Linked DNA regions of Homo sapiens. The protein of the gene in region 2 purifies or fractionates together with the protein of the main gene of each other region. This does not show direct contact. Each region holds a gene or a part of one and is shown on either strand. Other genes may lie near its edges.

Region 1 (9,584 bases), on a different chromosome or scaffold from region 2:
CACTACACCCATTGCACAGAGGGCAGATACTAAGGTCTAAAATGTGAAAAGGTCTTGCCCAAGGTCACTTGGAGAATGGTGGGCAGAGATGGGACTATGAGACGAGAACCAGCCTCCTGCTTCTCACTCTTGGAATTCCTCACCTCAAGTGCCAAGCCCCTAGCCTGCCCCTTCCAGGCCAAGCCTGGAAAGGGACCCCTGTGGTCAGTCACCCAACTCAGTATGGCTAAGCCTTACCACAGGCTGTCCCCTTGGGATCACAGTGGCCTGGCTGTCTGGGCTGGGAGGTAGGAGACCTGGAGGGTTGGGTGTTTGGGTCCACTAACTGCCCTGTGTCCGCAGGCCACAATGCTGCTTGGAGCCTCTCTGGTGGGGGTGCTGCTGTTCTCCAAGCTGGTGCTGAAACTGCCCTGGACCCAGGTGGGATTCTCCCTGTTGTTCCTCTACTTGGGATCTGGCGGCTGGCGCTTCATCCGGGTCTTCATCAAGACCATCAGGCGCGATATCTTGTGAGTACCTGGCCCAGCCTTTCCTGGGGTCTGCCACACTACAGTGAGCTTCTGGTCCCCCAAATCTCCCCAGGCCAGACCTCATGTTCTCTACCAGCACAGGGCAGCTGAGCTGAGTTCCAGAACAGCAGCCTCTGCTCCACACCCGTACCCTGGCAATAGTACCTGGTCCCTCCATCTCCAAGGTCAAAGTCTTCTCCCAGGGAATCTCCCTAACTTGAGGCTCCCAGGCCTTGGGCAGGCTTGGCCTAGGACGTACATTGAACACCAAGTGTGTTGAGACATCTGCAAGGGGTCCTGAGGACTCTGTAAGTTTATGAAAGGGTAAAGAGGAATTTTGGGGAAAGGCCCTGCCCTCAGGTTGGCAGGGGTGTGAGATGGCACAGGGGGCACTGAGTTCTAGAGCAGAGCCCCTACTCAGATGTCTGGGATAACCTGCTCCCCAAAGAAAGCCCGGTATGCTCCAAGGGACATCCTGTACCAGAAATATCTATTCCCGCTTGTTCTCTACTAGGTGCCAGGCTAGCTTTGGGGTCCAGAGAGGAATAAGGCAGACCCCATCTGCCAAGCTCAGATTGGTCAGGAGAAAGAAAGGGACACAGCACATCTGTAAATTGGCAGTGCCATGTGGGCAGAGACCCTGGCACAGCCTTGCTCACTACTGTGTCCCAGCACCCAGTTCAGTGACCCACACCCCACACAGGCAGCTCAGCATTTGTCAATCTTGGTTGATTGCAAAAGAAGGCACGGAGTGGCACACCAGGAAGGGTGGTAGCTGTGGGAGCATGGAGCAAGGAGAAACAGCTGCCAGCCAGGACCCTGGGAATCAGAGAAGGCCTCCTGGAGAAAAAGCGGCTGTACTTGAGAGGCGCCTTAGTGGTGGTGGAAGGAGATGAATCCAACCAGAAGGCACAGCATCAGCAACAAAGGCATGGAGTCCAGGGCTGGGCGCAGTGGCTCACACCTGTGATCCTAGCACTTTGGGAGGCCGAAGTGGGTGGATCACTTGACCTCAGGAGTTTGAGACTAACCTGGGCAACATGGCAAAACCCCGTCCCTACCAAAATACAAAAAAGTTAGCCAGGCATGGTGGTGCACACCTGTGGTTCCAGCTACTTGGGAGGCTGAGGTGGGAGCATCATTTGAGCCTGGGAAGTGGAGGTTGCAATGAGCTGACATTGCATCACTGCACTCCAACCTGGGTGACAGAGTGTGACGCCATCTCAAAAAAAAAAACAAAAAAACAAAGGTGGCAGGAATGGGATGTTGCCAAGTGATTCCACAAACTTATTGAACATCTACTCTGCCTGGCACAGGACCCAGGGGATAGAGTGTTGAATAAGACAGAAGCCTATCCCAGCTAGGCTCACAGGGAGGAAGACTGGACAGACCAGCAAACTCATTCATTATTTACTGTGGTCATGGTGGGTCGAGGGAGCAGCTGGACTGTGGGAGGCCCCAAACAAGGAGTTTGGACTTTTACAGGAAGCTCTGGAGACCTAGGAGGTTTCTGCTGGAGCAGCAGGCTGAGAGGGTAGGAGTAGAACTCTGGAGCCAGAGAGGCCTAGAGTTCAAATCTCAGCTCAGCCACCCTCCATCCATGAAGCTTTGAGCAGGCCACGGCACCACGAGAGCCTTGATTTCCTTCTGTGTAAGGGGAGGGGAATCATACGAACTCTCAGTGTTATTGAGAGGCATCAGTAAGGCAGTGCATGTTCCCAGCAGGAGCCAGGAGATAGAAGTGTTGTAGGGGGTCTGGCTCATGAAGCATAGGCTGGCGAGGCAGCAGCCTGGGGTAGGGTGTCAGGACCCCTCCCTCCCAACCATGGCAGACACAGCGCCCTCTCTTGTTCACACACAGTGGCGGCCTGGTCCTCCTGAAGGTGAAGGCAAAGGTGCGACAGTGCCTGCAGGAGCGGCGGACAGTGCCCATTTTGTTTGCCTCTACCGTTCGGCGCCACCCCGACAAGACGGCCCTGATCTTCGAGGGCACAGATACCCACTGGACCTTCCGCCAGCTGGATGAGTACTCAAGCAGTGTAGCCAACTTCCTGCAGGCCCGGGGCCTGGCCTCGGGCGATGTGGCTGCCATCTTCATGGAGAACCGCAATGAGTTCGTGGGCCTATGGCTGGGCATGGCCAAGCTCGGTGTGGAGGCAGCCCTCATCAACACCAACCTGCGGCGGGATGCTCTGCTCCACTGCCTCACCACCTCGCGCGCACGGGCCCTTGTCTTTGGCAGCGAAATGGCCTCAGGTGAGCCCCAAGGGGGCGGGGGACAAGCAGGAACCCCATGGGATCTTACACAGACCACAGCTCCCTTCCAGCCCTGCCAAGGCTGTGTGGGTCAGTGGTTAAGGGCACAGAGTGGAGTCAGACAGCTTAGGCAGTGCCACGAGTAAACGAGATCCTGGGGAAGGGACTGATTTCTCTGAGCCTCAGTTTCCTCATCCGTCGTTCCTACCTCATACTGTTTTCAAAAAGGTACTTCAGACTGGGCATAGTGGCTCACAGCTGTAATCCCAGCATGTTGGGAGGCCAAGGCAGGAGGATCCCTTGAGCCCAGGAGTTTGAGACCAGCCTAGGCAACATAGTAAGACCCTGTCTCTACTAAGAAATTTTTTTGAGACAGGGTCTTGCCCTGTCACCCAGGCTGGAGTGCAGTGGTGCAGTCACAGCTCACTGCAGCCTTGACCTCTCAGGCTCAAGCAGTCCCTCCACCTCAGCCTCCTGAATAGCTGGGACCACAGACATGCACCACCATGCCTGGCTAAATTTCACATTTTTTGTAGATACTCAGTTTTGCCATGTTGCCCAGGCTGGTCTCAGACTCTTGAGTTCAAGCGATCCACCTACCTCTGCCTCTCAAAGTGCTGGGATTATAGGCATGAACCACCACACCTGGCCTACTAAAAAAAGTTTTTTGTTTTTTTTTGTTTTTTTTGTTGTTGTTGTTTTGAGATAGAGTCTTGCTCTGTCGCCCAGGCTGGAGTGCAGTGGCGTGATCTCGGCTCACTGCAACCTCCACCTCCCGGGTTCAAGCAATTCTCCTGCCTCAGCCTCCTGAGTAGCTGAGATTACAGGCACCCGCCACCACGCCCAGCTAATTTTTTTGTATTTTTAGTAGAGACGAGGTTTCACCATGTTGGTCAGGCTGGTCTCCAATCCCTGACCTCGTGATCCACCCGCCTCGGCCTCCCAAAGTGCTGGGATTATAGGCATGAGCCACCACGCCCGGCCTAAAAAAAGTTTTTAAAAAATTAGCTAGGCTTGGTGACATGGACCTGTAGTCCCAGCTACTCAGAGGCTGAGGCAGGAGGATCACTTAAGACTAAGAGGTTGAGGCTGCAGTGAGTGATGATTGTGCCACTTCACTCTAGCCTGGCAGACAGAGTGAGACCCTGTCTCAAAAAAAACAAAATAAAAGGCCGGGTGTGGTGGCTCATGCCTGTAAATCCCAGCACTTTAGGAGGTCGAGGTGGGCAGCTTTGAGATCAGGAGTTTGAGACCAGCCTGGCCAACATGGTGAAACCCCGTCTCTAATAAAAATGCAAAAAAAAACCTAGCCGAGCATGGTGGTGCGCACCTGTAGTCCCAGCTACTCGGGAGACTGAGGTAGGAGAATCGCTTGAACCCAGGAGACAGAGGTTGCAGTGAGCCGAGATCACGTCACTGTGTTCCAGCCTGGATGACAGAGAGAGGTTACGTGTCAAAAAAAAAGATACTTACCTGAAGCACTAGCAACATGGCTGATGCTAGGTGGCCCCTCAGTACAATGGTAATCATCCTTGTGACTAATTAGGCCGTATCTAGCTCATCTGTAAAATGGGAACAAAATTAATTCCCCACTTTCCTCACAGAGCCTGCATTTTATTTGCTGCCACATTGGGCACCTGCAAAGTACTGAGGTTGCTGCTTTCCAAGAGCAGCTCTAATCTCTATAAAGACCGAGTGAGGTAGGGATCTTGGTTTTATGGATGATGAGCCTGGAGTTCAGAGGGGTTTGTGAGGAGCTCACCCAAGATCACACAGTTAGTAAGTGGTAGAACTGGGGTTTGATCTTCAGCTTGATCACAGCACTCTGTTTTTTCTCCCCACACTGTTGTGGTTGTGGGATAATGAATAGGGAAGTCATTAGGATGCTGAAAGGGGGCCTGGCATGGTGGCTCACGCCTGTAATCCCAGCACTTTTGGAGGCCAAGGAGGGCAGGTCACCTGAGCTCGAGAGTTAAAGACTAGACTGGCCAACATGGTGAAACCCTGTTTTTACTAAAAATACAAAAATTAGCCAGGTGTGGTGGCACACGCCTGTAATCTTGGCTACTCAGGAGGCTGAGGCACAAGAATCACTTGAACCAAGTGAGCCGAGATCATGCCACTGCACTCCAGCCTGGGCGACAGAGTGAAACTCTGTCTTAAAAAAAAAAAAAAAAAGATGCTGAAAGGGGGCCAGGCACAGTGGCTCATGCCTGTAATCCCAGCACTTTGGGAGGCCAAGGCAGGAGAATCTCTTGAGCCCAGGAGTTCAAGACCTGCCTGGACAATATAGTGAGACCCTGTCTGTCTCTATTTAAAAAAAGCAAAAGAAAAAAAAAAAAAAAGAAAGGAAAGAAAAAAATGGTGCTGAAAGGGGAGAGGGAAGAAGGCAGCCAGGGAAGAAGAGAGGGTTGGGCAAATCAAGAGGAAGCCAGGAAGGTGGGGCCAAGCCGACCAGCGCTGCTCCATGCCCGGGGGTGGGGGTTATGTGATGTCCGTGCAGTGCGCAGGGGAGCCTGAAAGCAGGTTCCCGCTCTCGGAAGGGGATGGAGGGCCACTGGCCTCTGACCCGCACTCCTCCCTTCTATCTGGTGCACCACAGAGTAAGTAGTGCGGGATAGTGGGGGGGAGCCCAGACCTTGATGTGAGGTAGAGCTGGCATTGCACGCCAGGTCCAGCACATTCTAGCTGTGAGCAGGTCCTCTCATTCTCGGAGCGTCAATCTTCTCATCTGTAAGAGGGGCTGTCAATGGTCCCTCCTTCCCAGGGCTGTGAGACCAGGGAATGCAGGTAAAGCGGACCTACTCTGTGGTTAGCCCATGGCTAATAGAACCATTGCCGGTGCCCCTGTCAACACTGAAGGCCCAGTTGCTTCACTGCCTCTCCTCCTGCCCAGCCAGTATCCTCAGCAACATGGCCAGCCCTGCTGGGAGCAGAGGTCCCTGGGAACATGGGGTTTTCTGGCCTGCCTGCTGACTGCCCTGTCTCCCCACAGCCATCTGTGAGGTCCATGCCAGCCTGGACCCCTCGCTCAGCCTCTTCTGCTCTGGCTCCTGGGAGCCCGGTGCGGTGCCTCCAAGCACAGAACACCTGGACCCTCTGCTGAAAGATGCTCCCAAGCACCTTCCCAGTTGCCCTGACAAGGGCTTCACAGGTGGGCTCCATCCCCTCCCCATAGAGGGGCTCTCACACAGGCCCTGGACAGAGCACTGGCCTCAGTGCCAGAAGGAGGCTTTTCTGGAAACTTGCCATGTGCCTGGAACATGTCACGTCACCTCCCTTTTTCCATCTGGAAAATGGTGACAGTAAACCTGGGCCACTCCAGGGTTACTGTGAAGGTGACATGAGCTGATGTGTATCAGTGCCAGATACAGGGCTGAGAACACAGGAGCTCACAAAGTCCAGTGTGATTTGTTGAACAAGCCTTCATTGATGCCTAATGGGCAGAATCCTGTGGACTCCGGGAACCTGCCTGGTCTGGGCTTTGGTTGGGGTTGGGTGGGAGGGTGGGTGAGGAGCAAGACCCTTTGTATATTCATCAAGTGCCTCTTCAGTGCAGGACACTTCAGGATCTCCAGCTGTGATCCTCTCCCAGCACTGTGCTGCCTCCCTGACCCCACCTCCAGGCAGCCTTCCTGAGCCTCTCACCCCTCTTCTTTTATACTGTAGCCTACCTGGTTCTTCTGCTCTTCTCATTCTCTTTCCTGTGAAGCCACATTGCCTGGTGGCTCAGAGCTTGGGCTGTCGAGTCAGATCCGAGTTTATATCCTGGTTCTACTGCTTCCTTTGTGTGAACCCTGACACCTGCCCTGCCCTTGGAGCCTCAGTTCCCACAGCCATAAAACTGGGGACAGTAGCAGAACCTACTCTATGGGGTATCTTTGAGGGTTGAAAAAAATACAGTGGGGCCAGTCCTGAAGCTAGGGTGTGGCAGGAGGGGCTCAGTAACTGGTCATTGTCATCAGCACTGTTTAACTTCTCTCTTGTATGTGAATCTGGTCTCTTGGGTGCATTTGTCAGCTGCTTGAGGGCAGGGACTCTGGCTGGTTGCTCTGGTGCCCTCATAGTGCCTAGGGCTGGCAAACAGCAGGCAGGCAGAGAGCATGAGGTGTCTCGGCAGGCATTCTAAACACGTGGAGTCTGCCTGTGGAGTTCCTGACCTCCAGGGAACCTCAAGTCTGGTAGGGCCGAGCCTCACATAGAAACTCTAACGTGGCAATCCCTGTCGAGGGCTGCAGAGTGGGACAGATCAATGCTCAGCAGTGCGGAAGCTACCTCAACACCCCACTTCCTGCAGCTAATGCCTCCCTGTGCTCTATGACTTGGGGCAGGTGTCACCTTTATCGTGAAGCCCACCTGGCACCACCTCCCCTCCTGCAAGCTTGGGCCAAATGTGGCTACTGGGTTTCAACAGGTCCTGTGCCCTCCCTCGGCACTTGTTGCTTAGTATTGGAATTGCCTGTGTCCTCATCTGACTGTTCCACTGAGCTGTGACTGCCAAGAGGGCCAGGCCCGTGCCCATCTTACTCACTGATGTCTCTCTCCACCAGGGCCTAGCACAGAGCAAGGGCCCAGGAAATATTTGTTGGAATGGATGCCGGTGTTAGAGCTGAATGGTATCTGAGGTTATCAGAACAGGCTTCCTAGCAAGGGTGTGATGGGAACAGGTGTTGAAGGGTGCACACCTGCAGGTGTCCATTTGTGTGACCCTTTGCCCAGCCCTGAGCTGCCCCCGACAGCCACTCGCGTCTGTTTTCTTTAGATAAACTGTTCTACATCTACACATCCGGCACCACAGGGCTGCCCAAGGCCGCCATCGTGGTGCACAGCAGGTAAGGGGCAGGTGCCCAGGGTGGGGTAGGCACAGGCAGGGCTGGGGAGCCTCCTTCTGCCTTTCTAGGGCCCGCTCAGCCCTTGGCCCTGTGCCTTCCCAGGTATTACCGCATGGCTGCCCTGGTGTACTATGGATTCCGCATGCGGCCCAACGACATCGTCTATGACTGCCTCCCCCTCTACCACTCAGCAGGTAACTCTAGGGCTGTCACACAGCCTCCAGCACCTGCCAGGTCTCTAGGAACCCCACCCCCATCAGGCAGTGTGCTGCAGTAGAAACACACAGCTTTGGGCCAGGCGCAGTGACTCACACCTGTAATCCCAGCACTTTGGGAGGCCAAGGTGGGCGGATCACTTGAGGCCAGGAGTTCGAGACCAGCCTGGCCAACATGGCAAAACCCCATCTCTACTAAAAATACAAAAATTAGGCTGGGTGTGGTGGCTCACACCTGTAATCCCAGCACTTTGAGAGGCCAAGGTGGGCGGATCACTTGAGGCCAGGAGTTCGAGACCATCCTGGCTAACACGGTGAAACCCCGTCTCTACTAAAAGTACAAAAAATTAGCCAGGTGTGGTGGCTCATGCCTGTAGGCCCAGCTACTCGGGAGGGTGAGGCAGGAGAATGGCGTGAACCCGGGAGGTGGAGCTTGCAGTGAGCCAAGATCGTGCCACTGCACTCCAGCCTGGGCAACAGTACAAGACTCTGTCTCGGAAAAAAAAAAAAGAAAGAAATTATCTGGGTGTGGTGGCGTGTGCCTGTAGTCCCAGCTATCTGTGAGGCTGAGGCACGAGAATTGCTTGAACCTGGGAGGCAAAGGTTGCAGTGAGCTGAGATCACGCCACTGCATTCCAGCCTGGGCAACAGAGCGAGACACTGTCTCAAAAAAAAAAAAAATTAGCTGGGTCTGGTGGCGTGTGCCTGTAATCCCAGCTACCTGTGAGGCTGAGGCATGAGAATTGCTTGAACCTGGGAGGCAAAGGTTGCAGTGAGCTGAGATCACGCCACTGCACTCCAGCCTGGGCAACAGAGCGAGACACTGTCTCAAAAAAAATAAAAATAGGCTGGGCGCAGTGGCTCACGCCTGTAATCCCAACACTTTGGGAGGTGAGTGGATCACGAGGTCAGGAGTTCGAGACCAGCCTGGTTAACATGGTGAAACCCTGTCTCTACTAAAAGTACAAAAAGTAGCTGGGCTTGGTGGCGGGTGCCTGTAATCCCAGCTACCCAGGAGGCTGAGGCAGGAGAATGGTTTGAACCCAGGAGGCAAAGGTTGCAGTGAGCCTAGATCGTGCCATTGCACATCAGCCTGGGTGACAGGGCAAGACTCTGTCTCAAAATAAATAAATAAATTAATTTAATTTAATTTAAAAATAAAAATAAACAGGATTAGCCAGGCGTGGTGCACATGCCTATGGTCTCAGCTACTGGGAAGGCTGAGACAGGAGAATCACTTGAGCCTGGGAGTTTAAGGCCAGCCTGGGCAACATGGTGAGACCTGTCTCTAAAAAAAATTTTGTTTTAGGCCAGGTGTGGTGGCTCACGCCTGTAATCCCAACACTTTGGGAGGCCGAGGCGGGCGGATCACGAGGTCAGGAGATCAAGACCATCCTGGCTAACACGATGAAACCCCATCTCTACTAAAAATACAAAAAAAAAAAAAAATTAGCCGGGCGTGGTGGCGGGCGCCTGTAGTCCCAGCTACTCGGGAGGATGATGCAGGAGAATGGCATGAACCCGGAAGGCGGAGCTTGCAGTGAGCCGAGATGGCATCACTGTACTCCAGGCTGGGCGACAGAGCGAGACTCCGTCTCAAAAAAAAAAAAAAAAGTTGTTTTAAATTGAAAAAAGGATGAGCACACCAGCCTCACAGTGTGTGTGGCAGTGTCCCACGGGGCATCTGGGCCTGTCTCATTTCAGTTTGTTTCCACAGATATGCATGGCATTGCTGCTTGTTTGTAGGGGCTTAAGGGAAGACAGCTTGAATA
Region 2 (10,679 bases):
CAGAGCCTTGGGAGGCTTACCTTATCAAGGATCACAGGGCTTAGAAGATCAGGGCCAGACGAATCCTGGGAACTTATTCAACCTTCTCATTTTACAGATGGGGAAACTGAGGCCCAGTAAGGTGGCGGACCAAGGTCACCAGAGAGTTAGTGGTAAAGCTTTCATTAGAATCTAGGGTTCCTGGTTTTCATACTCATGCTCCCCTCCTACACAACTAGATCCCACCCACATTGAAGCCCCAGAACCCCAAAATTCACCTGAGTGTACCACGAAAGTGTGTAATTCCAGCCCTGCCCCACTTGGAGGGGCAGGTGCCATTCATTTTCTACCTTCCCTACCTATGGTACCAAAAAAAGGGGAGAGGGGGCTTTAATTTGCTTCCTTCAACCTCAAAGGAGAGCTCTCATAACACTCAAACACTCCGGGTTTGGGATTCGTTTGGGAGAATGAAGAAGCCCAGGACCTGAGATCAGATTCCCAGGCGTTAGTCCTGATCCACCCAGGACACACTGAGCCTGAGTGTCCTCAGTTGGACCAGGTGATGTGGCATCCCAGGATTCGTCCTCTTCTCCACTGTGTCCTGACTGCATGCCCTCCCAGTCACCCTTCCCTCCCGCTTGAGGGCCAGATCTTCTACTCCAACCAGGCCCCTGTAGTCATCCCTTTGCGGAGGTCCCCACCTCTTTCTCCTTGGGGCTCGTTAAGGGCAGCCTCTTGGTGCTGCTGACAAAGCTGCTGGGGAAGCTTGAGTTACAATCACACCAGGTTCGGGTGGTTTCTCAGCACGCGGCTCCCTCAAGGGCAGCCAGGTGTCCCCAGAGCTGAGCCTGATGCCTGGTGCAGAGAGGGTGCCCCGAGAGATGTGTTGAAGGAGTACAAGCATAGACGGATGGTGAAGGGATGGAGTCAGTCACCTTGGAGGAGACTGGATGGAATAGTTGGCAAGGAGGGCAGTGTTCAGTCTCCAGGGACCTGAGGTTCTGGTCTCAAGAACTTCCTTTTTTTATTTTATTTCCATAGATTTTTGGGGAACAGGTGGTATTTGGTTTCGTGAGTAAGTTCTTTAACGGTGATTTGTGAGAATTTGGTGCACCCATCACCCAGAGTATACACTGAACCCAATGTGTAGTCTTTCATCCCTCATCCACCTCCCACCTTTCCCCCAAGTCCCCAAAGTCCATTGTGTCATTCTTATGCCTTTGCATCCTCATAGCTTAGCTCTCACTTATGAGTGAGAACATACAATGTTTGGTTTTCCATTCCTGAGTTACTTCACTTAGAATCATAGTCTCCAGTTCCATCGAGAACTTCCTTTTTGAGGGGGGTGAGCAGCTCATCATGGAGCTGAGCCAGGGTGGCCAAGTGGCAGAACTTCAGGGGCTGCCACTGACAGTGTAGTCCATGTAGATGGCATTGGCTATGAAGTTTACACAGACTTCATAATGAATGGTGGCCCCTGGGTTTTTGCCATGTAGGGATTTCTGCCTTGAGAGTGAAGGGATCTGGATTCCAGTCCCAGTCTCTTCCTCACTGGCTGTACGGTGTCAGTATATAACCCTTTTGGGTCTCAATTTCTCCATCCAAAAAAATAACATCATTGGATTGATGATGTTATGAACTATTTGGCGGTGGGGTGGGAGCACGTATTTATGTAACTGCTATGGGCTTCTTTTGCTTTATGAAGGAATAATTTCTGACTCAAGAATGATGTATGTAGAGTACTTAGTACAGTCCCTAACACATAGAAAATGCTCAGGAATTGGTAGCTAGTAATTCCACTAGGACTCCAGCTTTGTGGATATACCCTATACTTCTTCCTTTCTTCAGATCATCCAAGGACATGGGATTCTTAAGGCCTCAAAGTCCTCCTCCCTCAAAAAATTCCTTTCCCCCTGACCTATTCCTGGACTTCAGGCTCAGCCAGCATAAAACATCTGTGAAAACTCCCTGGGAGGATCAACACTTTTGTTTATTCAACCTTTTGTACGTTAGCGTAATAGAATTTCATAATTAATTTGTATGTAGTGTCAAAAGCTCTTCCTATACTCTGTCACTTACTCCTCATAAGACATCCGTGACAATAGTGTTATCATCCTCATTTTGCAGATAGGGAAATTAAGGCTTGGATTTTCACTTATCTAAGGGTGCATACCTCAAAAGTCTCAGATCCAGAGAGCTAGGCCTCCAGCTCAGATGATCTGACTCCAGATTCTGAACTCTTTGTTCTGTGTCGTATTGCCTGTCCTTTCCCTAGACTTGCCCTAAAAGAGAGGCGGATAACCCCTTAAAAACAGTTGAAAGAGGACTTTTATTCTCCTCACAGGTCAGTAACGGCTTCTTGGAGAAGCCAAGTAGCATTTAAACTGGGTGAATGATTTGTACGTTAGAAGAAAGGAAGAAAACTATTTCGAGGAGTGGAAATAGCATGAGCAGAGGATGGACAGGCATGGGGACTTCTAGGATATATACAGAAACTGGAAAGCAGTTCATTCCAACTGGAGCAAAAAGAATAAAAGAAGGGACTTGAGAAGGAAGGTTGGGTAAGGGGATGGAGGTTATTGGGGGGACATTGACTGCCAAGCTAAGGAGTTGGGAGTCTTTAGTTTTTGAGTGGGGGAGAAACATAATCAAACCGTAACATGATGAAACTCACTCTGGCTACCCCTTGGAGAACAGATTGGATGTGGAGAGCCTGCTGGCCAGAAGCCCAGGTAGGAAATGATGACAATGGTTTAGGTGAGAGATAAAGAGAGTATGGACTGGGGGTGGTTGTAAGAATGGTTAGAAAAAGGAGTTGATGCAAGAGGCCACAGTGTCACTAAAATTGGTAACTGATTGGATGTAGGCACTAACAGGAGGGAAGAATAAGTGATGGCAAGGCTTTGAGGCTGAATGGCCAAGGATGTCATTCACAGACACAGCCCAATAGGAGGAGGAGTGGGAGGCTTAGGAGTAGGGACTATGAATCTACCAGGGACCATAATGAGCCCTCCTGAAAAGCTGGTTCATCAAGCACCCTAAACTATCAAGAACCAGTTCATTCATTCATTTATTCTCTGAATACATATAAACATCTGTTACATGCCAGGTTGTTCTAGCCCCTAGGGATACGTTGCTAAAAAGACGAACTTCCTGCCCAAGCTCTACCAGGGGAGACAGAAGATAAAATTGTTCAGGTGGTGAGCAGTGCTTTGGAGAAAAATTAAGTAGGAAGAGGGATGACTGGGAGGAAGAATGGAGAAAGAGATCTGCCTTTAAATAGAATTGTCTTTGAGGAGGTGATATTTGAACAAAGACCTGAGTGAAGAGGAGACCTGGGGAACAGCATTCTAAAAAGAGGAGACCACAGGTGCAGAGGCCCTGGGGTAACAATAGCTTGGTGTCTTCAAGGAACCTGAAGTGTACCTGTAAGAGACAGACAAAGGGGGAAAGTGATAAGGAAAAAGGTGAGAGAGTGGGCAGAGCCAATCATGTAAGGGCCTATAGACCTGAAGAATGAGAAGCTGCATGATGTTAATGAATCTAAGAGAACACATATCCTATTCACCTTATATTCTTTGTGCCTAGCAAACCAAGCCTGGCCCTTCACAGTAAATCATTGTTGAATGAGTGAATGAATGAATGAATGAATGAATGTTGGAAATGACCATTTATGTGTGAGACTGCATATCTTAGACTTATATGAACCAATAAATAAAGATATTATACCATAGTAAGGGTATAGTAATCTGTACTATGATCAAAATAATAAAGCTCAGATAACTTGAATGCTGTGTTGTCACTCAAGTATGAAAATTTAAGTGAAGTCTGCATATTTTATTCAGTATGGCTTTATATTATAAACACTGCTGTTGACTAAGACGAAATAGTAAAACGTACCTGAAATGACTGTAAAACAATGAAAATAACATTTTTGGTCTTTCTTCATCCTCCTCCCCGCACAAATATACATCCTTCTGGCTTCATTTCAAATTTTCTCTTGCACTCTCAACCATTTCCTTCATAGAGGTTTTAAGGAAACTCATCTCTAACACAAAGACCCATATTTGCAGGACAAGATGCTATCATCTCCAGTAAACTGACAGATTCCCAAAAAGAGAAGGCAGTGGGGAGGGAGAAATTATTTATAGACATATAAATGCTTCGGGCACCTAATCAGTTGTTGAAATGGATCTACAGGTGGAGATGGGAAAACTGGCTGGACCATGTGAGGGGCTAGGTGACATGCAGGCTCAGTCTTAGAATCACAGGATCTCTGGACCCCCAGTCCAGATTCCATCTGCAGCCACAGGTCTGTCACCTGTCATATGTAGAAGGTAGAAACTCAGGTCATCTCAAGGGGAAAAAAGAAAAACAAAAACTAGAAACTCTTTTCTCTTTTAAGCAGTGTTATCACCAAAAGGCTCTTCCTTATCTTAGGGGATTGTGGAAAATAAGATTCCCCCTATTCTAGGCCGGGTGCGGTGGCTCACGCCTGTAATCCCAGCACTTTGAGAGGCCGAGGTGGGCGGATCATGAGGTCAGGAGATCGAGACTATCCTGGCTAACATGGTGAAATCCCGTGTCTACTAAAAATACAAAAAATTAGCCAGGCGCCGTGGCAGGCGCCTGTAGTCCCAGCTACTCAGGAGGCTGAGGCAGGAGAATGGCATGAACCCAGGAGGCGGAGCTTGCAGTGAGCCGAGATAGAGCCACTGCAGTACAGCCTGGGCGAAAGAGCGAGACTCCGTCTCAAAGAAAAAAAAAAAAAAATAGATTCCCCCCATTCTTTAACATCATCTCCATCTTTTCTGCATCTGGTGAGATGTGGAACGAGCATCATGGCCACCGGTGTCTGGCAAAACTCAGTAATTTCCAAACTCTTAGACTGAGAAAAGCTTTTCCCACTGTGCTGCAGCACATGGAACAGAAGCCACCCTCCTTCCTTTGTCCCCATTGAAGCAAGCGTGACTCAAGTTTCTATACCTGGGGTGTAGCATGTTGGATGGGGAGGGGATCCCCTCACACCAGATGCGGGAGATCCACTGTTTGCAGATTTGTAAGGGAACAAGCATCATGGGAATTCCTAACTTTGGGCTAATGTAAGGGATAAACTGTTCACAGCCAAATTTCCTGGTTAGTCCAGTAGCAAAATAAAGACCCTAAATTGCCCTCCTTTTTTGTGGTGAGGTAGTTGGTTGGAGTCATTAGAGAGACACACCAAGTCCTGAAGTGTCTTTCTGAAGAGTCGACATGAAACAGCCCCTCGCCTCCCATTCCTCTGCAAGCCTTTCGGGAGGGATTTGTGGGCCTCAATGGTGGCAGCATATGGGCATCTGGAATCAATTCTGAAGATTCTTGCAAAACTAACAATGTGTGTATTTCATCATCTGCCTAAAGATGTTGTCTGGTATAAATTATAAATTACAGTTGTGAAAATAACCATACTCCATGCTAGAGAACAAACGTAAGATGAACCATCATTTTATATGCCCTATTCTATGTTTTCTGTAAATCTGTATTTTGTAATAGTTGAAATTAGTCCACATATAGGTTTATAGCCTGCATTTTTCACTTAACATTTTGTCATGACTTCTCTGTTTATACTTGGTTGGCTGACCCCTGCTTTATTTAACTATGTCTTTATTGTTGCACATAGTCAATAATGAGCATCTCCAGGCACATAGCTTTTCCATCTCAGAGTCTCAAAGCATCCATCTGAAGCACCCTCAAGAGATATGATGGGATCAAGGTGGTTAAAGAGGGGTGCAAGGAAAAGAACATGTCGTGGCCCTGGCGTCTGGAGTAGAAAAAGAACAGGGAGCTTGGTGCAGTGGCTCATGCCTGTAATCCCAGCACTTTGGGAGGCTGAGGCAGGGGATCATTTGGGGTCAGGAGTTTGAGACCAGCCTGGCCAACACGGTGAAACTCTGTCCCTAGTAAAAATATAAAAATTAGCCAGGCATGGTGGCGCACACCTGCAGCCCCTCCTACTCAGGAGGCTGAGGCATGAGAATTGCTTGAACCCAGGAGGCAGAGGTTGCAGTGAGCCAAGATAGCGCCGCTGCACTCCAGCCTGGGTGACAGAGTGAGACCCTGTCTCAAAAAGAAAAAAAGAAAAAGAACAGGGAACCCAAGAGTTGGAACCAAGGAGAGGATGGAGAGGAAGATAGATCATGGGCCAGGGGGTCAAGGTCACAGAGCCCTAGGGGTGGCAGAGGGACATGCAGCTCTGTCAGATTTCAGAGGGAAGTCTGTCCTTCCAGTGTTTTGTTTGTTTGGTGTGGGAGGCTTTTATTAAATTGTGGTAAAATACACATAACACGAAATTTACCATTTTAACCAATGTTAACTGTATAATTTTGTGGCGTTAAGTATATTTACAGTGTTATACAACCATCACCACTGTCCATCTCCAGAATCTTTTTATCTTCCCAGACTGAATCGCTGTACTCATTAAATACTAATTCCTCATTCCCATCTCCCCCAGCCTCTGGTGACCTCCGTTCTACTTTCTGTCTCCATAAATTCACCTATTCTAGGTGCCTCGTGTAAGTGGCATCATGTTTGTCTTTTTTTGTCTGGCTTCTTTCACTTAGCCTAATGTTTTCAAGGGTCGTCTCTGTGGTATCATATATCAGAATCTCATTTATTTTCAAAGCTGAATATATTCCATTGTATGGATATACCACATTGTTTGGCCATTCATCTGTTTCCACCTTTTGGCTATTGTGAATAATACGGCTATGAACATTGGTGTGCCAGGATCTGTTTGAGCCCCCGCTTTCAATTCTTTGGGGTATATACCTCGCAGTGGAATTGCTGGATCGTATGATCATTCTGTGTTTCACTTTTTGAGAGGTGCAGGGTGCATTTTTTAAAAAGGATTTTTGTGTGCCCAGTATGAAGACCACTGAGTGAAGTCTTAGGAATAGAGAGTCCAGGAAGAAGCTGTTAATTTAAAAACTAAATGTTGTTTGGGTTCTGCATGGCCATGGAGGTAACAGAGAAGAGAGAAGAGGGAACAGAATACAAATGAGTCTGACTCCGTTTCTGAAGAATTGTTGTGATTTAGAGGCATTGTGGGTGGAAAAAGAAAGCTCTCAGGAGAGATCTTAGTGGGTGGAATTGATTCAAGCATGCAAGTATTTACTGTACCAGGCACTGTGGTGGACACAAGGCCCTCAGCAATCAACACGACCACAAGGACCCTGCCCGCAAGGAGCTTAATGTCTAGTGGAGGTGCCAGAGGAGTCACCTGGCAACAGTGGTCTGTACTGATGCATTCTAGGCTCATCATAAGCACTCACTCTTACTGAGTGCTTACTACATTATCTCAATCTTGGTGACAGTTCAGTGAAGACGGTTTCTGTTATCCTCAATTTGCAGGTGAGGAAACAGAGAGCTTGAGTAACTCTATTTCAGGTACGCACAGCAAGAGTCAGAGCCAGAATTTAAACCTAGGCAGTAACTGTGCTCTGTAGGGCTGTGGGAACACAGGAGAGACACCTGCCCAGGACGGAGGTCAGAGAAGGCTTTCCGAAGGCAGGGGTCAGGTGAGTATTTTCACGCAAGTCAGCTGTGTTCTTCTTTAGCCCATGATGTAAAACAGTGCTTTCCTATAGTAGCAGCAGTAGCGTTCAGCCCTGCTTCCAGGGACTCTAGACACTCAGGGAGACCCCTTCACTGAGACTCCACTTCAGAGGAAGATGATCACTTCTATCATCCTTGCTGCTTATCATGAGGCAGGGAGGCTGGGGGTGAGGCATTGCCATTTCCCACTGCCATCTGCTGCCTCTGCTACTTCCCTAGCTGGTCAGCATCTGAGGTACCTCAGAGGGACCTCCTGGGGCCCCTTCGGGGCAGCATCAGGCCAGTGGGCTAAGAGTTAGGCAAATACGAGGCCTAGGAGTGGCAGTGAAAATCATATATCCACCTTCTGTGCCACATCACTGTCCCAAGATACTCCCACCACCACAGAGCCCTGTCTTACCAAAGTACAGATGTGGCCAAGTCTCTGGTGTTTCCATCCTTCTGTGGCTCCCCATAGCTTGCAGCCGTATTTCTCAACAGGGACCTACTGGCCTTTGGGTGGGAGAGTTCTTTGATGTAAAAGCATCCCTGGCCCCATCTCCTATATATTTGCCTGGAGCACCCTTCAGTCATTATAACAACCAAAAATGCTCACACATGTTCTTCAGGTTTACTTTACAAGCAGTCCAATGTATAGATCTTAAGTGTTCTGTTCAGTGCATTTTGACAACTGCATGAGCTCATATAACCATCACCAAGAGCAAGACTCAGAAGATTTCCATCACCCGCAAAAGTTCAGAGATAACGATTATTCCAATTTCTATCATTGTAGATGGATTTTGTCTGTTCCTAATCGTCATATAAGTGGAATCATATAGTACATGCTCTTTTGTGTCATGAAATAGTTTTTAAGAAGCCAGACGCAGTGGCTCATACCTGTAACCCCAGCACTTTGGAAGGCCAAGACGGGTGGATCATCTGAGGTCAGGAGTTCGAGACCAGCCTAGCCAACATGGTGAAATCCCATCTCTACTAAAAATACAAAAATTAGCTGGGCATGGTGGTACACACCTGTAGTCCCAGCTACTCGGGAGGCTGAGGCAGGAGAATCCCTGGAACCTGGGAGGTGGAGGTTGCAGTGAGCCAAGATCATGCCACTGCACTCAAGCCTGGGTGACAGAACGAGACTCCATCTCCAAAAAAAAAAAAAGACATAGTTTTTGAGATCCATCCACGTTGTCACGTTTTCCCCACTAACCCCCAATACACACACAGATTTCTAAATGCCAACTAGCATGGCAATACCTGCCTCTGTCCCCCTGAGAAAAAATGGCCTGTGAGTCAAAGTTAGTGTGTCTTAGGCTGATTCATGAAGCCGTCTGCTGTGTGACAAGAGTCCCTCTTACGTCTACTCTGTGGCTACACTGAGCTGCCTCGTCTGCCTGGCATACCTTGTGCTTTCACCTCTCCGGGCCTTTGCCCTGCAGTGTTCCCTGCCTGGAATGTCCTCCCTGTATCTGGTGAACTCCTGCTTGTCCTTCGGGTCTCTTCTGTGCAGCTTCCCAGACTCTGTTTTTGTGCCCTCCTGAGTGCTCCCATAAGACAGCCTCAGTGGGCCTTTAATGCATTTCTCACTCAACTCACTAGGCCGAATGCTGGGTGGAGGGCAGGGACTGGCTCTTAGTTATCTGTGTGTCCCCCAAGGCTCAGTACAGAGCCTGATATTAAAGAAATTGATATAAGATTATAGTAAGATTATCTTAGAGACAAACTGGGTTTAAAATACAAAATATATTCTGAACCACCCCCTGGAGCTAATAAAGTTGGAGCTGGGCATGGTGGCTCATGGCTGTAATCCCAGCACCAGGCCGAGGCGGGTGGATCACTTGAGGTCAGGAGTTTGACACCACCCTAGCCAATATGGTGAAACCCCATCTCTACTAAAAATACAGAAACTAGCCAGGTGTGGTGGCAGGCTCCTGTAGTCCCAGCTACTTGGGAGGCTGAGGCAGGAGAATTGATTAAACCCGGGAGGCGGAGGCTGCAGTGAGCCTAGATCGCGCCGCTGCGCTCCAGCCTGGGTGACAGAGGAAGACTCCATCTCAAAAAAAAAAAAAAGTGGTCAAAAAAAGACAGTCTGATCTCTGGCTACAGATGATAAATGTAAACTGACTTCCTGCCAGTGAGGCAGAGACCTCCATCCCTTCCCCAGAGGACCTAGCATCATGGGAAGTGGCATGGATGAGTGCAAAGTAGCGCAGCTCAGGGAGTCAAGGGGGCCGGGGCGGGGCCGGGGGGGTGCGGCAAAGATCAGAGTCAATCTCAGAAGGCTGCCTGGAGGAGGTGAGTTCCAAAGGTTTTCAAAGAGGTCTCTGTGTCAAGCCTAGGAGTTGCATAATCAGAGTGTGAGAGCCCTAAAGCATGATTCAAGGCCACCTGGATCGTGGGCCTGATCTGTCCTCTCATGACCCTGGTACTGAGTGTCATGCAGCAGCCCTTCCCTCTTCCTTCACTCCTTTCCACTCATGTCTTTCTTCTTTTTCTCCCACTTGGTCTTTCCTTCCCATCTTCCTTCCAAATCTGAGTGTAAAGGAAAGAGCTGGACCTGCCTTCCATGTTTTTTTCTCCTCTGCACTGGGCTTTCTGTCGTGGGGGATAAAGAGGGGGTTTTATCCCTTGCCCCTTGTCAGCCTGGGAAGTTTACAGAAGCCAAAGTTATGGACAAGAGAGCCAGGGAGCAGCCCGGGACAGGGTGTGGCTCATTACCAGTTTCCAAGTCACAAAAAGTGCTGGGGGAAGGATTGAGCCAGAGGAGAGGTCAACACACCCTAGACTCACTAGGGAGGTTTCCTGGAGGAGACCTGGGCTGAGGTGGGCCTTGGAAGGGCTGGAAACCACAGCACAAAGAGGAGGAGCAGGAAGGCCTTTCCTGGCCAGGCCTGAGTGCAGAAGGGTTAAATTAGGCGGGGGGCAGGGGCCCTGATGAGAAGCTGGAGCCCACAGCAGGGTGTGGCAGGAGCTAGGGGCCGCTCTAGGAGCTGAGAGACTAAGGCAGAAAAGCAGGAGGGAGCATGGCTGGGGCAGGCGGATGTCATGGCAGAGGAGGATTTGGGAAATCCTGTGAAGTGGAGTTTCCAGTTCTTTTACCCGCCCTTTCCTAGGGCTCT
Region 3 (10,679 bases), on a different chromosome or scaffold from region 2:
TTTTGTATTTTTAGTAGAGACAGTAGAGATGGAGTCTCATTTTGTTGGCCAGGCTGATCTTGAGCTCCCGGCCTCAAGTGATCCACCTGCCTTGGCCTCCCGAAGTGCTGGGATTGCTGGCATGAGCCACCATGCCTGGCAGCTTCGGTACCTTTTCACTTTGCTCTGGCAGCCCCTAGGTTGCAAACACTGGAACCCTTTTATGTATATACCCACTTGCTTCATACCTTCACCTTTCTTCTAGCTTCCTTCATGTACCATTAAAAGAGCTCATCATTGGAAGCTACAGAGGGTCCAAGGCCAGAAAATGAGTGGGGCTCAACTGGCCGGGCTCTGTGGCTCACGCCTGTAATCCCAGCACTTTGGGAGGCTGAGGTGGGCGGATCACAACGTCAGGAGATCAAGACCATCCTGGCTAATACGGTGAAACCCTGTCTCTACTAAAAATACAAAAAATTAGCCGGGCGCGGTGGCTGGTGCCTGTAGTCCCAACTACTCAGGAGGCTGAGGCAGGAGAATGGCGTGAACCCGGGAGGCGGAGCTTGCAGTGAGCCTAGATCGCACCACTGCACTCCAGCCTGGGTGAGAGAGTGGGACTCCGTCTCAAAAAAAAAAAAAAGAAAAAGAAAAGAAAATGAGTGGGGCACAACTTCTTAGCATGTCAGGCTTGGGTTATCTGGTCCAGAGCCATGTCTAGGCTTTATGGGGAACTTAAATGTTCAAGGGCATCCAGGCCAGCAGATGGAGCTGGGATATGTAGTCTGGGCCTTCCCTGGAAGTACAGGTTCCCTGTACTTCCCTTCAAATATGGGACAGCCTTTACCCTGCCTCTAGGGAGCAGAGGCTGAAGTTGTGGGTCCAGCAGCTGCATAAGTACAAGGGTCAGATAGTACCTTTTATATTGGACCCTTGGTGTTTTATGAGGCTGTCTACTTAATGGCTTTCTTGGTTTAGCAACATTCTTCATGATCACTAATTGCTTAGTACTCTTTCCATCCCCATTTTATTTAAGAATGAACATGTAAAAATCTTTAAAATCATAATGAAAACTAAGTTGACATCTCTGTTTTTTTCTAAAAAATCAAAAAAGCTGATTGTCCTAAATTGTGTAGATCGTGGGAATATTGTGTAATGAGGAAAAAAAAATAAAGGCTTTAAGAGAGAATTCTAAAATGCTTAATTTCAAAGAAAGTAGTTAAAACATCAGTCTTCTGATGAATTTCTAACCATTCCCCCACGTATACAACTTACTACATTTTGTGCTTTTAATTCGCTCTGGAACGTTGTTGTCAATGAATTTGGTTTGATTACTCGGGAGAAATTCCAAGTAGAATTGTATACACAGGGGGAATTTGTTGGGATAATGAATTGACTCACTTTTTGTTAAGGAAAAGTATCACAGTTTAATCACCTTGTCTGTGCTGAAAACGTTTTAAGTAAATGAATATTGTTTGCTTTTCTAGGGAAAATATGCACGGCATGTATTACTAATTTTAATGCAGCTGTATCATCCAACCAGCTTGTTTAATGTTAGGTAACACATTATCCTCTGTCCTGTTGCCTTCTCTGGAAACCCAAAGGATAAATAAATGGTACTATACAAATAGGGTAGGCCCTTTAGAAACAGATGTGTGGTACCATTAGGTATGTATTCTTCACTTTACAAGAGCTGCCAGTACTCCACATCTGCCAGGGTACTGTGGAGCAGTTTTATAACTTCCTCCATGGTTGCCATCAACCATAAATCATCAAGCAAAAGGTACTTGCCCCTTTGAAGAGCAAGTAAGTCATAACCGCAACTTCAGATTTGAAGTTCCTATCCGTAAGTTGAATAGTTTGGGGTTGTGAACTCAATATTTAAAATCCCAGGAAAACAGAAAGGAGAAGGAGGGGCAAGTAGGACAACCAGAAAATGACCTCTGTTCTAGAGCACTGTCCAGTAGAACTCTCTGTGATGATAGAAACGTTCTGTATCTCCGCTGTTCAGTATGAAAGCCATTAAACACGTGGCTGTTGAGCACTTGAAATGTGGCTAGCATTACTAAGGAACTGAATTTTAATTGTATGTAATAGATTTAAATTCAGAATAGCCACATTTGACTAGTGGCTACAGTACTTAGACGGTGCCATTCTAGAGAGTCTGGGTGCATAGCCTGACACATGATCTTTTTGGATACTGTGTCTTCCCTTCCAAACCCTTCTAGCCCTAAATTGTTCTACAAAAAATACTCAGGATTTATGTAGGCCAGTGTTGGAATTTATAATCCCAGTAGTTTGCATTCTTCCTGAACAGGCAATAGAATAACACTTGCTGCTTTATGGCTTTTGAACCAGACTCTACTCTCGGATTTGATGGTCCACTCACAGACTGTTCACCTCCCTTTGTTGCCGTGCCTCTGGCTCTGTTACAGGAATCTGTACAAATTGGCCCACTCGATATGCACTGTAGTAAGCTGGATTCATGTGATATTTATTCCTTCCTCCCCAGGTTTGCTCTTCGTTTTATACGGCCTGACCCTCGCAGCCGGGTCACTGACCCCGTTGGGGACATTGTTTCATTTATGCACTCTTTTGAAGAGAAATATGGGAGGGCACACCCTGTCTTCTACCAGGGAACGTACAGCCAGGTCAGTGCCATAAACCATATAGATGCCAACTTACCGAAATGATTCTATCCTCAAAGGAGAGCACAGCCCAGCACTGATCATGTCCTTCTTGTACTCAAAAACCTTAATTAGCTCTTCACTGCTTATAGGGGTGGGTAATAAAAAAGACCAAACCTTTTAGCTGGCCCCTCTTTGATCTAATGCTGCCCTTCTTTTGAGGTCTTTTCTGCATAACTTATTTTACCATACCCTCAGTTCCAGCTGACTCATTCCCTGAACATAGTCTGTACTTGCCTACCTCTGTGCCTTTGCTTTTGCCGGTCCATCCACGTGGAATGCCTTCCTCACATTTTTGCTAATTGGAATCTTGCCAGTCCTTCAACTAGATTATGTCACGCCCCACTTACAGCTATCCCTGATTGTTGTGCCCTGTCCTGCCCTATCTCATCATCTAGAATACTAATCTTTCCCTTTGTTCTTCCATAGCTTTTAAAAATTGATAGCAATTTTATATTCTTTCCTATATCATTTGTGTTCGTGTCTAATCTCTGCTACCAGACTGAAAGCCCCTTGAAGGCAAAGCCTACATCTTCTTTGATCTCTCACAGAATTGAATAAGGACATAGACCATAGACTCAGGGTAGCACATCTCATTCAACCTCAGCCATGTAGACCTTTGACTCAAGACCTCACCATTCAGGGGAGGAAAAATTAGAGTTCTGTGGGTGTTTGGTATATCTCTAGTTTGCCAGAGAAATACATAGAATTAACACTACAGGAATAGGGAAAACTATGGGAATGCTGTGGCAATAGGCAAAAGGGGGTTCTATTATGCAGCCTCCAGAATTCCTGAATCTATCTGGAGAAAGAAAAATGCTCACCCTTGCTTCCTGCTTTCATTTTCCCACATCTGCTTTTTATCATAGTCAGTCTCCTCGCTGGCTGTTCCCACCACACTCAACAAAAACTGAGCACCTACTGTATGCCAGGCAATGTCCTCAGTGCTAGAGATACAGAGATGAGTGAGATGAGCACCTCCTGTGTACCCTCTCTGCTATGATCCTGAGGGTAGACCACCCTTGACCATGTCAGCAGTCGTACAGTGTAATGTGCTCAGGAGCACGCACATGCAGGAGCACGCACAGGAGTCTTCGGCGCTAGCCTTGTCTTTGAAAGTCTTTTACACCCTATGCTCTTTAGAATGCCTTTGGATCGTACAGTCCATCATTCCTACTCGATATGTGGCCTGGGATCAGGGTTGTCTTCGCAGTTATTTTTTACTTACAAGGATGTTGTAGCTGTGAAGTAGAAAAATTCTCACCTCCCTTTCATATGGTCAGATTCTCCTGTTTTTATCTTCCTTAGACTGTGGGTGCAGCTGACTTTTCTGTGGTTTGTTGGGAACCTGTGTTTGTAAGCCTGTCTACTCTCATGTGTCTGTTAAGTTTGAATCCTAACAACACTAAAACCTTTTCATTAAAGCTTGTTAGCGTGGAGTTTCTATAGGGAGAACAATGCCAGGGGTGTGAAGGTAGGAGCTCAGGAATTTTCTGATTTCTTGCTCACCTTTTTTCCTTATTTTTCCTTTTGTTCCTAAATACATAACTGTATCCATTAGGACCCTTAGCTTAAATATAAGCTCAAGGCACAGTCTTCTTAATAGTGAGTGACCTTCTCTTTCTCACAGGCACTTAACGATGCCAAAAGGGAGCTTCGCTTTCTTTTGGTTTATCTTCATGGAGATGATCACCAGGACTCTGATGAGTTTTGTCGGTAAGTGGATTGATTATTTTCCTTCTCTTTTCTGACTCTTTCTGGTGACAGTTTATAGTCAGCAAGTTGTTCTCATATCCTTTTCATACCTTTCCACAGCAACACACTCTGTGCACCTGAAGTTATTTCACTAATAAACACTAGGATGCTCTTCTGGGCATGCTCTACAAACAAACCTGAGGGATACAGGGGTAAGTTATGTTTCTTCTGCCTCATTGAGATTGTTGGAGTATCTTTGGAATAGTCTGGAAAGACATGCCATGCCATTTATTACAAGTGTGTTTGTTCTGTGGTAGATACGACGCTAGTTGCTATTTTATATTGTCTCATTTAATCCTCTCAGCAGTCCTGAGAGATGGGGGGTCATATTACCTTTGCTTTATGGTTTAGGAAATAGGCTCAGAGAGTTCAAGCCACTGGCTGAAGATCACACAATTAGCAAGTTTTATTTTTTTTGTTTTTATTTAATTAATTAAAAAAATTTTTTTGAGATGGAGTCTTGCTCTGTCGCCCAGGCTGGAGTGCAGTGGTGCGATCTTGGCTCACTGCAACCTCCACCTCCTGGGTTCAAGCGATTGTCCTGCCTCAGCCTCCTGAGTAGCTGGAACTACAGGCATGCACCACCACGCCCAGCTAATTTTTTTGTATTTTTAGTAGAGATGGGGTTTCACCATGTAGCCTCAAACTCCTGGACTCAAGTGAGCAGCCCACCTCAGCCTCCCAAAGTGCTGGGATTACAGGTGTGAGCCACTGTGCCCCGCCATAATTAGCAAGTTGTAGCGTACAGTCGGGTCTGCCAGATTCTAAAGCCCGTTCTTCACATTCAGCATTGCCAAAGCCTGCCACATTCATAGAAATACCCAGTCTTGGCTAGCAGCTTGCTTTTAATCTTAATGGGCTTTTTACTGAAGAGTTTATTCTTTTCATCAACGATTTTAACAGAGCCCTTGCATAGTGAGTCAGTTGTTTGAGTACCTTGAGTGCTGATATGGATTTGGAAAGTTCAGATCTTTGCTGACAATAACTCTTCTTTGGAGATAAGTATTTTTAGACGGTTAGTAAAAGATACGAAGGCATCCAGTGAGGAAAAATGTAGTCATTTTTGTGGCTACTTCTATCCAGCAACTTTTGAGTTTATATTAGCATGCCACATACTGTGCCATGTCTTGAGAACCAAAGATGTGGCAGATGTTGTCCCTGCATCCCAGAGTCTGAATCTTAAGCCTAATTGTTTTTAAACATCCAAATTCCTGCATGCGTTTTGCCATTCTAATATGGCTTTGCAGGGGGCAGAAGGGAGGTTGTGAATAGAAGGAAGGTAAGGATTTTTTTTTAATAGAAGTTTATAAAATCTCTTATTTCACACCATAAGGAAAACATAGGTAAAACTCTGTTATGGTAAAAATCTTGGTCATTTGGACACCAATTTTTTTTTTTTTTTTTTTGAGACCAAGTTTTACTCTGTCACCCAGGTTGGAGTGCAGTGGTGCGATCTCAGTTCACTGCAGCCTCCACCTCCCGGGTTCAAGCGATTCTCCTGCCTCAGCCTCTCGCCTATCTGGAATTACAGGCGCGTACCACCACACCCTGCTAATTTTTGTATTTTTTGTAGAGATGGGGTTTCATTATGTTGGCCAGGCTGGTCTCAAACCCCTGACCTCAAGTGATCCAACCACCTCCGCCTCCCAAAAGTGCTAGGATTAAAGGTGGAGCTACCAGCCCAGCCTCAACTTTCTATTAATAAGCTTCTTTGGAACAGAAAAACTAACCTTTTTAAGGGTGGAGAAAAGTTACGTGGGGAGAAAGGATAAGGAAAGGATTAGGCAAGAGAAAAAAAAATGATGATGGAGATTATTATCAGTATCATCAGGCTGAGACTTGCAGCCTTGTGCCCTTTTAGGTTTGAGCCCTTGTACAGGGAAAAACTGTGCCAGATTCTTTATAGATCCTTTTTGTACCATCAAGTAGACATTATCCTTAAACTCTGCAGCCTTCCCTGGCATCATCACAACAACCACACCGCCACCAGGAAAGCCTGTCCTATTCTAGTCAAGCACCTAGGGATAGGCATGCAAATTGATAACAAAAACAAAAGATTACAAAACTGGGAGGAACTGGGCATGGTGGCACACTCCTGTAATCCCTGCTTCTCAGGAGGCTGAGGTGGGAGGGTCACTTGAGCCCAGGAGCTGGAGACCAGCCTGAGCAACATAGTGAGACCCTGGCTCAAAAAAAGAAAAGAAAGAAACTAGGAGGCGGGGAAAAAGCGGAGACTAAATGATACCTCTCGTCTTCCCCAACCAGGATTAAAACAGTTCTCTCTCACTCATTGTGGAAAGTCTAAGGGTTGATCTTTTTCACCGTCAAGTCCTGCCCTTGATCTGTTGGGTCTTTTTATCAGTCTCACAGGCTTTACGAGAGAACACCTATCCATTCCTGGCCATGATTATGCTGAAGGATCGAAGGATGACTGTGGTGGGACGGCTAGAAGGCCTCATTCAACCTGATGACCTCATTAACCAACTGACATTTATCATGGATGCTAACCAGACTTACCTGGTGTCAGAACGCCTAGAAAGGTACAAGGGAGTTCCCTTCTGGAACAGAGAGAGACCAGTTGTAAATTTGGAGGGCTGACCTCTGGGGCTCTACCAATCCTGACTTCTTCTGTGCATCAGGCCGCTATTAGCTTTTAGCTTTGCCCATTTATTGTCAAAATATTTACATACTTTGACCTAAATTACTCTATATCAGGTAATCTGTTCTTAGAGATGTTCAAAATAAAGACAAGGGCTGGGTGCAGTGGCTAACACCTGAAATCCTAGCACGTTAGGAGGCTGAGGCAGGAGGATTACTTGAATCCAGACTGGGCAGCAAAGCGAGACCCCATCTCTACAAAAAATAAGAAAAAATTAGCTAGGCATGGTGGTACATGCCTGTAGTCCCAGGTCCTTGGGAGCCCGAGGCAGGAGGATTGCTTGAGGCCAGGAGTTCGAGGCAGCAGTGAGCTCTGATTGTGCCTCTGCACTCCAGCCTGGATGACAGAGCAGGACTCTGTCTTTAAAAAATAATAAATGAATGAATAAACAAAGACAGGCCTCTGTGCTCAAGAATGTATATTGTGGCATTTAGAATAGCTGAATATAATATAAAGAACTTCGATGTAAAAAAAAAAGTGGAATGGTTATAATTCCTCTCCATTACATAAGTTATGTACATTAATTATAGGAAATCCTAAAACCACAAAAAAGCACAAGGAAGAAATTTAAGATCACTGATAAACCTACCACCACTTGAACATTGTTATAAATTTTTTTAATTTTATACACAACACACACCCCTATATACGTACACATTTATTTGTAAAATTGGGATAATACTTTTTTACAACCCTTCTTTATGTAAGAATATATCACGGCCTTTTCCCTCATCATTAAATATTCTGCCACATTTTAAAAATTACTGCATAACATTCCATTATCTAAATACATCATAATTTAACCAGGCCACTCTCGTTGGATTTTTAGATTATTTTCGGTTTGTTACTATTATAATTAGCATATAGGGAGATAATTTTTTGCAATTTGTGATGGTTTCCTTAGATTAAAATTTAAATTCCTGGAAGTGCAGTTTCTGGGTGAGACAATCAATATAAGTATATTTTAAGGCTCTTGATTTGTAATGCCAACTTGCCCTCAAGAAAGTTAAACAAACTTAAATTTTATGGAAAGTTTTTAATAACATGGGGACATGCTTGTTACATATTAGAAAAATGCAGAATCAGGCCGAGCATGTTGGCTCATACCTGTAATCCGAGCATTTCGGGAGGCTGAGGTAAGAAGATTGCTTGAACTCAGGAGTTTGAGGTCAGCCCGGGCAACATGGTGAAACCCCATCTCTACAAAAAATACAAAAATTAGCTAGGCGTGGTGGCACACGCCTGTAAGCTGAGGTGGCAGGATTGCTTTAGCCTAGGAGGTTGAGGCTGCAGTGAGTCATGATCGCACCACTGCACTCTAGCCTGGGTGACAGGCTAGCCCTGTCTCCAAAAAAAAAGAAAAATGCAAGATCAAAATCCTGTAAATAATAGCGTTATTTTAACTGTGTAAAAAAATGTATAGAACAGGAAACTTTCCGAGGTAACTGAAATGTTCTGTCTTGATTGGAGTGGTGATTACATGGTTACATTTATCAAAATTCATTGAATTGTACATTTAAGATCTGTGCATTTCACTGCATGTAAATTTTATCTTAATTTTTAAAGATAAAATCTGTTCAACTATTTTGATTGGCTAAATATTTTGGCTAAGAGAAAACAGAAATTTGTTGGAGAGAAAATAGGAGATATGCCAAATGTTATAATGTTTTATCTTTGATTAGTGATTCTCTGAATGACTCTGAAAACTCTACATTTTCAGATCTGCTACAATGTGTGTATGGATATATATGTGTGTGTTTTGGTTTTATGAGATCAGTACAAAAATGCAGTCACCCAAAATGGTATTTACTTGTAAAATATGATATTGATGATCCCTTCATAATAACAGTACTGTGTCACATTTGTTAGAATTAGGGGAAAAGTTTTATTTTAAAAGAGGAGAGGAAAGCTTGCTGTTTCCTTTTCTGCCAAATTAAACTGAGAAAAAAGGTGGCTTATTCAGATTCTGCCACGCTCTGCTTTTGGAATCCCTTATGGCAGTGTGAAATCGTCATCTGCTAAGAATATCAACATTTTTACACACACACACACACAGAAGATTTCAATATAAGAAAACACAGAACTTTGTGAGAGTGCTGTTTTTCTTCTCTTGCTTTTGATCTATTCACAGGGAAGAAAGAAACCAGACCCAAGTGCTGAGACAACAGCAGGATGAGGCCTACCTGGCCTCTCTCAGAGCTGACCAGGAGAAAGAAAGAAAGAAACGGGAGGAGCGGGAGCGTAAGCGGCGGAAGGAGGAGGAGGTGCAACAGCAAAAGTTGGCAGAGGAGAGACGGCGGCAGGTAATGGACGTGTGGCTTTACTCCCTGTGGTTCCCAAACTGCCGAGACTTTGCCATCTTGGTCTTAAGTGTGAAAGGAAAAAATGATAGCCACCTTAAACAGACTAAGAGGGAAAAAAAAAAAGGAAAAAGGAAAGAAAAAATTACAACATGTTGGAATTAGGGGTGATTTAAATTTTTCATACCATTTAAATATTCATTCTTTTTTAAATAAAAATTTAAAAAAAGAGACGGGCTTTGCCATATTGGCCAGGCTGCTCTCGAACTCCTGACCTCACATGATCTGCCTGTCTTGGCCTTCCAAAGTGTTGGGATTACAGGCGTGAGCCACCATGCCTGGCCCTAAATATTCATTCTTAATACCAGTATTAGCTGATTTGGCATTTTACTCATTATCTTTTTGTTTTTGTTTTGTTTTGTTTTGTTGTTGTTTTTGTTCCCTAGCAATCAGACTGAGATATACATTATCTTATTTGATTATGTATTACCGCTTACCTATAACCAGTGTCTTTTAGTCATTTCCTTTTATTTCTTTTTTTTTTTTAAGAGACAGGGTCTCACTGTGTTGCCCAGGCTGGCGTGCAGTGGCTATTCACCAGTGCAATCATGGAGCACTACACCCTGAAACTCTTGGGCTTAAGAAGTCCTGCTGTGGCCTCTGAAGTAGCTGGAACTACAGGCACATACCATGGCACCCTGCTCCCTTTCTCCTTTTTCTCAAATAAATACCTAGACATAATAAAGAATACATGAGATGCAATTGTACTTTAAATTTAGGTTGTTTTTGACTATTCCTGAGAGGTTTTTCTTAGAATACTTAGTCATTAATTTTTCTTCTGACGACTGCGTAATAAAGCTACATGGTCATTGTATTTATTTCTTGAGCTGTAGCCTCACCTTTGCTTTGTGTCTCTGCAGAATTTACAGGAGGAAAAGGAAAGGAAGTTGGAATGCCTGCCCCCTGAACCTTCCCCTGATGACCCTGAAAGTGTCAAGATCATCTTCAAATTACCTAATGATTCTCGAGTAGAGAGACGATTCCACTTTTCACAGTCTCTAACAGTAAGGACCACCTAAGTTCTGTGAAGTGTATGTAGCATCTGGGCTATAGATTTGGAGCTTTTACTGACTCTTGAGAGTGGTGTTGGTGTATCTGCTGCTCTGATGAACAGGGAACAGAGAGAGAGAGAGAGAGATGGGTATGCCATCCGTGGACACCAGGAAGAGTACCGAGGACTGCTGTAGGCTCCTTCAGTTCTAGTTTCCAACTCAAAGCAATTTTTAAGTTTTTGTTTAATTA

The links.
Region 1: the proteins of PTPN5 (region 2) and SLC27A4 purify together in Homo sapiens (affinity purification with mass spectrometry, with the first as the bait; 2 studies listed by BioGRID). This does not show direct contact.
Region 3: the proteins of PTPN5 (region 2) and FAF2 purify together in Homo sapiens (affinity purification with mass spectrometry, with the first as the bait; 2 studies listed by BioGRID). This does not show direct contact.

What each region holds. Positions count from the first base shown.
Region 1 is NC_000009.12:128,342,785-128,352,368, forward strand, and holds part of SLC27A4 (long-chain fatty acid transport protein 4), read left to right. Parts: intron 1-342; coding exon of another isoform or gene 343-348; coding exon 349-509; intron 510-2,370; coding exon 2,371-2,765; intron 2,766-5,760; coding exon 5,761-5,919; intron 5,920-7,527; coding exon 7,528-7,597; intron 7,598-7,699; coding exon 7,700-7,791; intron 7,792-9,584. UniProt on the Homo sapiens protein: Mediates the levels of long-chain fatty acids (LCFA) in the cell by facilitating their transport across cell membranes. Appears to be the principal fatty acid transporter in small intestinal enterocytes.
Region 2 is NC_000011.10:18,780,275-18,790,953, reverse strand, and holds part of PTPN5 (tyrosine-protein phosphatase non-receptor type 5), read left to right. Parts: intron 1-10,679. UniProt on the Homo sapiens protein: May regulate the activity of several effector molecules involved in synaptic plasticity and neuronal cell survival, including MAPKs, Src family kinases and NMDA receptors.
Region 3 is NC_000005.10:176,489,706-176,500,384, forward strand, and holds part of FAF2 (FAS-associated factor 2), read left to right. Parts: intron 1-2,488; coding exon 2,489-2,627; intron 2,628-4,293; coding exon 4,294-4,379; intron 4,380-4,478; coding exon 4,479-4,570; intron 4,571-6,780; coding exon 6,781-6,958; intron 6,959-9,208; coding exon 9,209-9,380; intron 9,381-10,297; coding exon 10,298-10,441; intron 10,442-10,679. UniProt on the Homo sapiens protein: Plays an important role in endoplasmic reticulum-associated degradation (ERAD) that mediates ubiquitin-dependent degradation of misfolded endoplasmic reticulum proteins.